2 separate regions of the Homo sapiens genome follow, and region 2 is linked to region 1. The links come from fine-mapping of genetic effects on gene expression. A gene starts in region 1. The other region holds a variant in brackets. All regions are shown on one strand. Distances are from middle to middle. Region 1 holds the start of TCTN3 (tectonic family member 3). Region 2 overlaps TLL2 (tolloid like 2).

Region 1 (5,379 bases):
CAAAAAGATCCGGAAACATTACTTCCTTATCACTCATCTCTAAAATTACTTCAACCAACAGTCTTTTGCCAACGCTAATAAATTCAGAAATAATTTAACACTATTTGAGAGTTGCCATTTAAATTCCAAACTTTGAAATCTAAAATAGTCTCTGATCAGATGTACAATGGAAATTTTATAGAAAGATCATTACATGGTAAATTGGTTGCAAAAAGAAGAAATTTTATAGAAAGAAATACAATCCTGAAATAAAATAAACTAAAAATATTCCTAAGGATTAATTCTAAAGAGTTCAACAAAACAATTTTTAATATATTTTTAAAATATTTAATGCACATCTAACATGTCCCAGACACTGTTCTAGGCATGGGGATATTTCAATGAACAAAACAGACAAAACTCACTATTTTTGGAATTTACATTCTAGTATATACATATGATCATATAATCTGAATAATATGAACTTGGCCTTTTCCTATAGAAATTACTAATAAGGTAAATAAATGTTTTAAGACCAAACACATATCTCCCATAGCTGTCTATCACACAACAACATAAAAACATATTTGAAAATATTTATAACACAGAGAGACTTTTAGCTACTGACTTCAAAACATTAGAAAATAAAGATCTTGTAAGAGAATTCAAGTAAAGTCAAATGTCCTAAAACTTACCTGAGTTAAATGATTCACTTGTAAAGGGAGGTGTTGACCAGATTTTAGGTAAGTGTACTAGATTTTAGATAACTCTTAACAGATGTTAATTTATATACTAAAACTAAATATCCAAAATAATCCAGATGTCAGAACCGTGGACATAGGAAAATACTGGGTCTAGGAGGAGCAATATTTTGATCATCTACAGTCCCACTGTACAATATGGTAGCTACTCACGTCTGTGGTTAACTTTGAATTAATTACAATTTAAAAATTAAAAATTCAGGCCAGGCACAGCGACTCACAGCTGTAATCCCAGCACTTTAGGAGGCCAAGGCGGGAGGGTCACTTGAGGTCAGGAATTCGAGACCAGCCTGGACAACATGGTGAAACCCCATCTCTACTAAAAATAAAAATAAAATTAGCCGGGCGTGGTGGCGCGTGCCTGTCATCCCAGCTACTCAGGAGGCTGAAACAGAAGAATCACCTGAATCCTAGAGGCAGAGGTTGCAGTGAGCTGAGATCACACCACTGCACTCCAGCCTGAGCGACAGAGCGAAACACCGTCTCAAAAAAAAAAAAAAAAAAAAAAATCAGCTCCTCAGTCACGCTAGCCACATTTCAAGCGCACAATTGCCACATAAGGCCGGTGACTACCATGCTGGACAGTGCAGCTACGGTACATTTCCAATACCGAAGGAAAGTCCCATGGCCCGCGCTGCTGTGGGGAATCGGAAGAGGCACGCCATTCCCGGGAAGAACAAAAACCTCCTAGAGAGGCTTAAAAAATTTGCCATTAACACGGGGAAAAAAATCTTCTATTTCCATTCCTCCATCTTATTTTCTCACCTCCTAGACAATGTTTCTTTTTTTTATTCTTTCTCTCCCTATTTTCTCACATTTTTCCTGCCCTTTTTTCTTATTTTTCTCTCACTGCTTTTTCTAACAACAAACATGCAGTCCATCTTTAATGATTTGATGCATTTCTTTAGGGTTTTCAAAATTTCTCAATGTTAAAATGTAAGGAGCTGAATGAACATTATTTCTAATGTGTTTTTTTTTTTTTTAAAAAAGCCATATTTAGAGGAGACTGTTTTTTAAGGTATGTGACCTTAGGTGTGTTTCCCCCACCTGAGAACATTATTCTTCCATAGAAAGGGTTTCTCACCGTTGGAATCCGGGGTGAAAAAAAATTTGCAATTCTAGTTCCGGCCTCTGGGGTTTCCTTGCACCGGAGGCCGGGCTCAGTCCTCTGGGCCGCGAAGTGGGCGCGGAACCTCTCGGTCCGCCGAACTCCTACCGCCACCTAGCGGAAGGAAGGCGCAAGGGCTTCTTCGTCACTGACGGTTGCCAGGCAACGGAGGCACGGCCCGGCCCGCGTTAAGGAGGAGGGCGCAGACCGAAGGACACTGAAAGAGCTGTAACAACCCCACTTTCGATTGGTTGAAGAGCTCTCAGCCTTCTCATGAGCCAATGAGAAGAGGCACGCGGATGGCGTCAGACGCTATGCGACTCCTCCCACCCACGCTCTGGCAATGCGATTGGAGACCGCGGAGGCCTACGTCGGACCCGGAGGCCCTGAATGCCCCATGCGCACCCCACAGCTCGCGCTCCTGCAAGTGTTCTTTCTGGTGTTCCCCGATGGCGTCCGGCCTCAGCCCTCTTCCTCCCCATCAGGGGCAGTGCCCACGTCTTTGGAGCTGCAGCGAGGGACGGATGGCGGAACCCTCCAGTCCCCTTCAGAGGCGACTGCAACTCGCCCGGCCGTGCCTGGACTCCCTACAGTGGTCCCTACTCTCGTGACTCCCTCGGCCCCTGGGAATAGGACTGTGGACCTCTTCCCAGGTGAGGGAAAACGTTGTGGGGGTGGAAACTTACTTCTGAGATCTAAAATTCTGTGAGCAAAGTTGAGCTGCCACAAAGCAGGAGTGGGGCTGTCGGAAGAAGGAGGGTGAGCACCTGGGAGAGTTTGGGGATCTTCATCCCACTCACTCTGTGTCGTACTTTCATAGTCTTACCGATCTGTGTCTGTGACTTGACTCCTGGAGCCTGCGATATAAATTGCTGCTGCGACAGGGACTGCTATCTTCTCCATCCGAGGACAGTTTTCTCCTTCTGCCTTCCAGGCAGCGTAAGGTGAGCTTCGTTGCTCAGACTGAATCCTAAAGGGGTTTGGGGCCTACAACGGGTAACATTTGGATGTAAGAAGAGTTAGTCTTTGTGCCTCCCACCCGTACTTCCACTCCTAGGACATTCCCTTGGTTTTTCCTAGGAATTGCCTTTTCTGATTCTCTAGAGCAGGGCTGGCCAGTAGAATAAGACCTTCGTGTCGTCCTATAGGTGCCCAAGGAGTCCTCTTTGGCATCATCTGGCCGATATTGCTGGGACACTCTTTTTTGGACCTGCCCCGCCCCTTCTAAATATATCTTCTCCCTCCTCTTTCCTCACAGGTCTTCAAGCTGGGTTTGTGTAGACAACTCTGTTATCTTCAGGAGTAATTCCCCGTTTCCTTCAAGAGTTTTCATGGATTCTAATGGAATCAGGCAGTTTTGTGTCCATGTGAACAACTGTGAGTAGAAACATGTTGGTTGTTCTCATTTTCTAACACAGGAGTGTTATATTTTGTCTTCCCTGGCCCACATTGGAAGAAGAATTGTCTTGGGCCACACGTAAAATACACTAACGATAGCTGATGAGTTAAAAACAACAACAAAAAAAAAGCAAAAAAAATGTCAAATGTTTTAAGAAAGTTTACAAATTTGTGTTGTTGGGCTGCATTCATAAGCCGTCCTGGGCTGCATGCGGCCGGTGGGTTGCAGGTTGGACAAGCTTGGTCTAACATTTATTGAGAATTGGCTTTTATTCTGGCCTTTTTTCCATTTCTTTTTTTTAAACTTTTTTTTTTTTTGTCCTTTGAATCTCTACGCCTCTTTCTGCCTCTTCTCTCTTATTACGGAATACATTTGCATTTTTGTTTTTTTTTGAGACGGAGCCTCCACCTATCGCCAGGAGTGCAGTGCAGTGGCACGATCTCAGCTCACTGCAACCTCCACCTCCCGGATTAAAGTGATTCTCCTGCCTTAGCTTCCCGAGTAGCTGGGACTATGGGTGTGTGCCACCATGACCAGCTAATTTTTGTATTTTTAGTAGAGACGGGGTTTTGCAATGTTGGCCAGGATGGTCTTGATCTCTTGACCTCATGGGCCACCCACCTCGACCCCCAAAGTGCTGGGATTACAGGTGTGAGCCACCGCGCCTGGCCACATTTGCAACTTTTTATGTTCTGTTGGCTATGGATCAGAAAACTCATAAAGAACTTTAATTTCAATCATTTTAATCATTCCTCTTAACTCAGATAATCACAGATAGACTATATTCCCCACTTACTACAATCTCCATGAGGGTACTAACTGAATCCCCAGTGCCTAACACATAGTAAGCACCAAATAATGTTTGAATGAACATCTTTGACAAATGAGTCTATGCCAACCTTATTTTCATTTCATGAGGCAACAGTGTAGGAGGAGCATTAGATTAGGATCTCAGTCCTGCCATTTCCTTACCAGCTATACAGACTTGGGCAAATCCCTTAGCATTTCCAGGCTCGTTTCTTCAACTGTAAAGTGAGAAATAATATCATTGGCTTTGTATATGAAAGCGCTCTACAACTGTAGAGTACAATAAAGATTAGAGGTTATTATTATTGGGGATGGTTAGTGGACTTAGAAATTTGCTGGTGATGGCTATAACATTTCTAAAGATATGAAGCTAATCTATCTTTTTAAAATGTCTATGAAGCAAAATAATGTTCCTGCACAAAATGGATTTAAATGTCTCTTGCATCCTGGAAGTCACCTCATCCTGATTTCATCTGACTGTTAATAAGAATTGCAAAACTATATTTGTCTCAGAAAACAACCAGTTTTTGGTTTTGGGGGACTTGAATTTCAAAGCAGTTATCAGAAGCCTTGTGGTTATTTAGATGGTAATAGGGTAAAGGGAACAAGATGAATACTTCATTTTCAGATAAGGTTGTGGCCTGACGCGGTGGCTCACTCCTGTAATCTTAGCACTTGGGAGGCTGAGGTGGGCAGATCACTTGAGGTCAGGAGTTTGAGACCAGCCTAACCAACATGGTGAAACCCTGTCTCTACTAAAAAAACAAAAAATTATCCAGGCATGGTAGTGGGCACCTGTAATCTCAGCTAGTTGGGAGGCTGAGGCAGGAGAATCATGTGAGCCTGGGAGGCTGAGATTGCACCACTGCACTCCAACCTGGGTAACAGAACGAGAGTCTGTCTCAAAAAAAGAAAGTTGTCTCTTCTTTTCCAAACATTTTACTGCCTTTTAAATCCAGCCTTATGATCATGCTCCAGGGTTATTGCAATGGCACCTACCTGGTGCTCCCTGCTTTTGATCCCCACTCCTGCCCCCGACACCATCCTGCACACTCCTTCGGGATCAGTGGATCTGAACTTTCTTTAAACACCTGAGGGAGGAATATGGCCACTTCCAATAGTAGTTATGGTTCATTACATCAATGAACTTTTTCCTGAACGAGGGTGGGGTGTACATTCATGTTTAGTATGAAAAAGGCAAAAATTTCCCTTTGGTTCTGATTATTTACCTACCTTCCTCACATATACACACATAGCATCTACACACAGTATACACAGTTGTGGAGAATCATTTCACTAGATAAATCTTTCCATAACATTGCATT
Region 2 (5,379 bases), 720 kb before region 1:
AAATCCTCTAAATCTCAGCATCCCAAGTTCTCAGGGGGTACTGCTCCTCTGGCCACACAGCTGCTTAAGTCATGATCTCTATCCTGCACCTAGACATGAGCTATCATGGGTGGAGTTGTGTTAAAGCTGGCATCTTCGACAGCACTTGGGAGTAGCGTGAAATTGAGCCTTCCTGGCCTCTTTGACCTTCTCCTGGCTCTTTTCCAAAGATAGTAAAAGAAACATGGTGTGATGAAGAGACCACTGAACTGAGAGGCAGAAGCCGGGTTCTAGTCATAGTTCTCCTGTGACCCCTTGCCTTTGAGGGAGGCAGACAGTAATTAGGGGCAGCTGTGTGATGGTTAAATCTCCACCTCCACAGGCCTTGGTTTCCTTGTGAGAGGGTTGGACTAGATGTTCTCTGAGCCCCTTCCAGCTCTAACCTTTCAAGTTGCAATTTCTCAATCCGATGCAGATGGGTGAGGGGTTGACAGATTATGATCTCATTCACTGCCATACAGGAAATCTGAAGCTGGAAGGGCCTCCTCTTCCAGATTAGGAAACTGAGACATTGAGGGATCCACCCTGAGGCTGTGTGCAGGGAATCTCAGGACGCCAGTGCAGTGTGCAAATATCCAAGGGGGAGGCAATGCTTGGGTCTTGGGGTGGGCTGATTCACCTGTTTGGGAAATGGTGCAGGGAATAGCCAAAGGCCCACCCCATCATCCAGGAGTTACAGGCTGCTACTAGAGACCAAGTATCAATTTTGTCAGGGAATCTATGTCAAGTTGGCCCAAGGGAGAAGCTTTTTCCTTGGGTCTTGTTTCTGTAGCTGCCATAACTCTTCATATTGCTTTTTAATTTATCTATTAATAATTATTAATTTATATATTCATATTAATTTATATATTCAATTTATATATTCATATAATTTATATATTCAAATGAAATCAATATTCATTTAATTTAGCTATTAATAATTATTATTTTATAAATTCATATATTAATTTATATATTTATATATACATATATATTCATATATATATTCATATACATTCATATGTATCTGTTGTATTCCCTTCTCTGGCAGTAGACTGAGATCCTTGAGGACAGAGACTATCTCATTCTCTTCTAGTCCCCAGCACCCAACATAGTGCCTGGCACCTAGTAGGTATTCAATAGACATTTGCTAAATGAATAAATTAATGAATGAGTTCAAAGGGGCCAGGAGGACCTGCAATGTTGGGGAATAGGTGAGGGTAGAAATTTCCATTATGCTCATTACAGTTCTTTCCATGTGCTCACCAATGCGATGGCTACTTTAGTAAGGTGAATCTGTAAGTCTGTACCATGTAGGGCATTTGTGTGCTGTAGGGACTGCACTGCCTTCTCACCGCCTGCTCCGTGCCAGGCACTGCACAAGCTCTGGAGCCAGAGGCCAGGACAGGATGCAGGCAGAGGATCTTCCAGCACCAGCGTTTCTTCTTGTCTTTCTTTTTGAAATATATATATGTATTTTTTTTTCTAGGATTGCTAGCTCATAATACCATGCCTTTTGTCCCTCAGGGGATAACCATTTCTAATGCTATTGTCAATGTGAACCATCAGCCCAGACCAGTGGAAATCCATGGGCCAAACCCATGAAATAAAAATTCCTCATCAAAATTCCCCAGAATCTCTAGGAGGGAGATCAGCAGGGGCAGCACACAGGAGGATGGGCAGCTAGGAGCAGAGCAGCTCGCCGAGGGCAGGCAGCCCCTCCTGCTAGTGTTACATTAGCTACTGCTGCAGAGCAATTGACCCCCAAGCTTAGTGACTTAAAACAGCAGCTTATTATTTTTGATGATACTGTGGGTTAGTTAGTCAGGCTTGTTCTTCTCTGGTCTTTCCTGGGATCACTCACAGCAACAGTCATCTGACAGATTGATTGGGCTGGGGAGTCCAGAATGACCAGTCACACGCCTGGCACTTGGTGCTGCCTGTTCATGCCCCTCTGTTCTCTCTGGGAGCCCCTTGGTTCTCCTTCATGTGGCGTCTCATCCTCCAGTAGGCTAGACCAGGCTTTACACTGCATGGGGACTCACAGTTCCAAGAGAGCAAGCGGGGAAGCTGCAAGCCTCTTAAGGCCCCAGCTCTGGAACTTGCATGACATCACTTCTGCCACATTCTGTTGGTCAAAGCAAGCCACAAGGCCAGCCCCAAACTCAAGCAAGTGGAGAAATAGACTCCACCTCTTACTGGGAGGTATGG[A/C]AGCTTCACATTGCAGTAGGATTTGGCTATTAGGAGGAGTGACTTTTTATTTTAACAATCTGCCACTGCTGCCTTGTCACCTCTGCCCCAGAGTTCAGAATGGTTTCAGCAAATCTGTTTTGTTGCAGGTGGATGACTGCATTGTCCTTTCTGCCAACTTTTTACCTGGATTTTCGGAAAACAATTTTGTTCACTGGGTTTTTACTGGGAGCTTTTCTATGAGCATTTTGTCAATAGTTTCCCCGCTCCCAACTCCATGTCATTACTTCTGGTCACAAAGACCCTAAAGCTGGCCTGTACCTCATGTTGGATTCTGTAAAAGGGCAGAATAGAGCCCATGGAACATATGCTGATCTGGGGAGGTGGGCAAATGCTATACCCTGCTGATGGGAAACTCAATCCTTGTGTCTCTTTACGATTGAGCTGTCTCCTTCCAACTTCATTCTCTCTAGTTTATTGCAGTTCTTCTCCCCTCCCCCTTGGTTGGACCCAGGCTGTGGGGAGCGGTCTCTTTGGAGGTTTTGCTGGGCAAAGATCCAGGAGATGAGGAGACAGTTCTCTTGTACAGGGGCCTCTTTGTTTCAGAACTCAGAACTGACAGTTTTATTCCCTGAGGCATCTGCTGAACTCTGTCTTAGTTTAGCAGAATGTCAATGCTAAGAGTTGTCCTACATGAAAGAGGGAAGGAACGTCACCGCTGTGGTTTACACAGGGGACGGCTCTTGTAGTAAACAGCTGGAAGCTCTTGCTGGCAGCTTAGGATACGCAAGGGAGGACGTCCAGCACCAAAGAGCGGTCTGAGTGTGAGCCAATGTTGTTCCTGATGTTTTGGTTTTTGAAGTCTGCAATGTTCTTAGCTCTATAATTTAATGTATCATAAGGCCTACTGTTCCTTGGGCAGCAGGAAACACTGGCTGGAAGGAGGAGGATTCCCAGAGGTGAGCTCCTGGCCTGCCTCTCCATGACTACCTCTGTGCCCTGGGAAAGTCACTTAAGCTCTGCAGGCTCAGTCTTCTCCCCTGTAGAGTGAGAGCTCTTGTGATAATGGCACCTGACTCCTAGGGTGTTATGAAGATGAAATGAGTTGGTGCAAGGAAAGTGCCCAGTGCAGGGCCTGGCACATCGGAAAGTCCTATGAATGATGAGTAAGTGCAAGAACATGGCCTCTATGCCCCAGGCCCGCTGGCAAAGTCATCTACGTGATGTGGCCAGGTAGCGTGGGGTGCTTATAGACTGTGTGATCCTTATGCTTGTGCTGCAGAATTCCTTTCTGCAAGGGAACCAAGAAAATAATTACAAAAGGACACACCTTTCGTTAGGGCAGAAGTGCCTGTTTTTGGAGTAGCTAATGATTGAATTTAGGATTTTCTGCAGAGTCATCACTTGTGGTTTAAAATGTGGTAAAGTCAGTGAGGGAGGCCAAGGATTCCACTAAAGTTTCTCTGCAGGAGTCCAGACTCAAAAATGAGGCTATGGGAGCTAGAGAAAGACAGGTCAAGGGTTACATGTTGGGTACAGAGATGCTGAACAGGAAATCAGCAGATGATCTATACTCCCACAGGCTAAGGTTGGAAAGTGAGCTTGAAATCTGATTTAGAAAAAAAAAGTCTGCACAAAAACAAAAAGATAACAAAGTGATGTAACCAGGAAGAACCAGGGGTAATAGGTATTTTCTAATGTAGTGCAGAATTTAGGGAAATAGAAACAGTGCTTGAGAGAGACAGAGAGAGAGAGAGAGAGAGAGAGAGACAGAGAGAGACAGAGAGAGAGAGCATGCACAGCTAATAGCTAGGTGACATATGTACATTTTCACTTCCATTTTGGATGTAAATAACTATTTTGCAAAGTTTTTAAAAGACAGTGCTTTATCCTGATTGCATATTTAATTCAAGAAGCATTTTTTGAGGTCTGCTGTGCTGTAGTTTCTAAGGACAGAGATAAAACACCCAGTCTCCCTGCTTGAGGAACTTACTTTTAGCAAAGAAGACAAATACCATCACTCCTTAAGAAAAACAATACAGTATGATAAGAAGAGACTACACAAATGATTAAGACCCAGAGCAGGGAATGATAAACTCCAGATGGGAGGAGTAGAAAAGGCTTGGGGAAGACTTTTAATAGAGAAAGACATCTGATGGGGTTTTGGAGAATGAATAGGAGTTTGCAAACAGACAAAAAAACAGAGGGCATGGGCAGCCTAGGGAGCGGATAGCATGTGCAAGGGCATATTTGAGGCCTACAAGGAGCTCAGTGTTGCTTAAAATAATGACATATGCTTTATTCTTGTTAAGTATTCTTTTGGTTATGGGATTAAAGAGTCAGGCTGGAGAGGAAGGCAGAAGTCAGTGAGCAAACAGCCTAGAGATCCAAGTGGTGACTGGAAGTTGGTGAAGCGTTCTAAGCAAAAAAGGCACGTGCCTCCCCTTGCATTCTGGGATGATTCCATTGCAGCATTGTGGCCAAGGGGAGCAGTAGAGTAGAAGTGGCTGAGTCTACAGGGAGGGAGGCCAGTTAAGAAGCTACTGGAAAGAGTTCAAGAATGGGGTGTTGATCACTTGAGCTATGGCAATGGTCTGGGAACAAGGAGGAGGGTATGGGTTCAAGGGGTGCAAAAAAGGTAGAGTGGACAGGACCTGGCTCCTGGTTTGGTAGGAGAGTATGAGGGAGAGGGAGGAGCTGAGAATGCCCTCAGATTCAGGCTCAGGAGACAAGGATCATGGAGTGAGCAGGAGAAGGATGGAATTGTGATAAATTTGGTTTTGAGCACGTTGGATATAAGAGGCCCATAGGACAGCCCAGGGGAGGTGTTACGAGGCATCTGGGGCTCAGCAGAGGATCCTGGGCTGGAAACAGAGGATTAGCTGTGAGGCTGCAGATGATGGTTAAAAGCCGTAGGAGCAGATGGAATATGGAGAGAGAGGACAGAGGGAGAGGGCAGAAACCCAAGGGGCATCACTGAAGGGGAAGCAGAAGTGGTTCTTGTCTCACTGCTCAGAGAGAGCCATGGCCTGGACCCAGGGAGAAGACAGTGAGGAGGGAGGAGGGCATCGGAGGTCAGTGCTGGAGAGAGGGCAGACGGAGATTGGAAGCTGTCTACTGGCAGATGAGTGGTGACCGTTGCTGATGGGGTCAGATCACAGGTGGATTGAG

What was found. PIP is the estimated chance that this variant, and not a neighbour inherited with it, causes the effect.
Region 2: its variant is fine-mapped to the expression of TCTN3 in prefrontal cortex (GTEx, PIP 0.97).

Annotation. Positions count from the first base shown.
Region 1 is chr10:95,690,766-95,696,144 of GRCh38, reverse strand. TCTN3 (tectonic family member 3) reads left to right here and starts at 2,218. Exons shown (of 14, transcript NM_015631.6): 1 at 2,218-2,501; 2 at 2,669-2,792; 3 at 3,107-3,225. The coding sequence starts at 2,246. It also overlaps a transcript of ENTPD1 not described here. RefSeq lists enhancers at 1,258-1,759, 2,234-2,513.
Region 2 is chr10:96,414,339-96,419,717 of GRCh38, reverse strand. All of the region lies in intron 7 of TLL2 (tolloid like 2), which reads left to right. Among named protein-coding and RNA genes, the nearest start is that of OPALIN, 58 kb to the right of the region's middle. The variant A/C (reference allele first, on the strand shown) is at 2,230.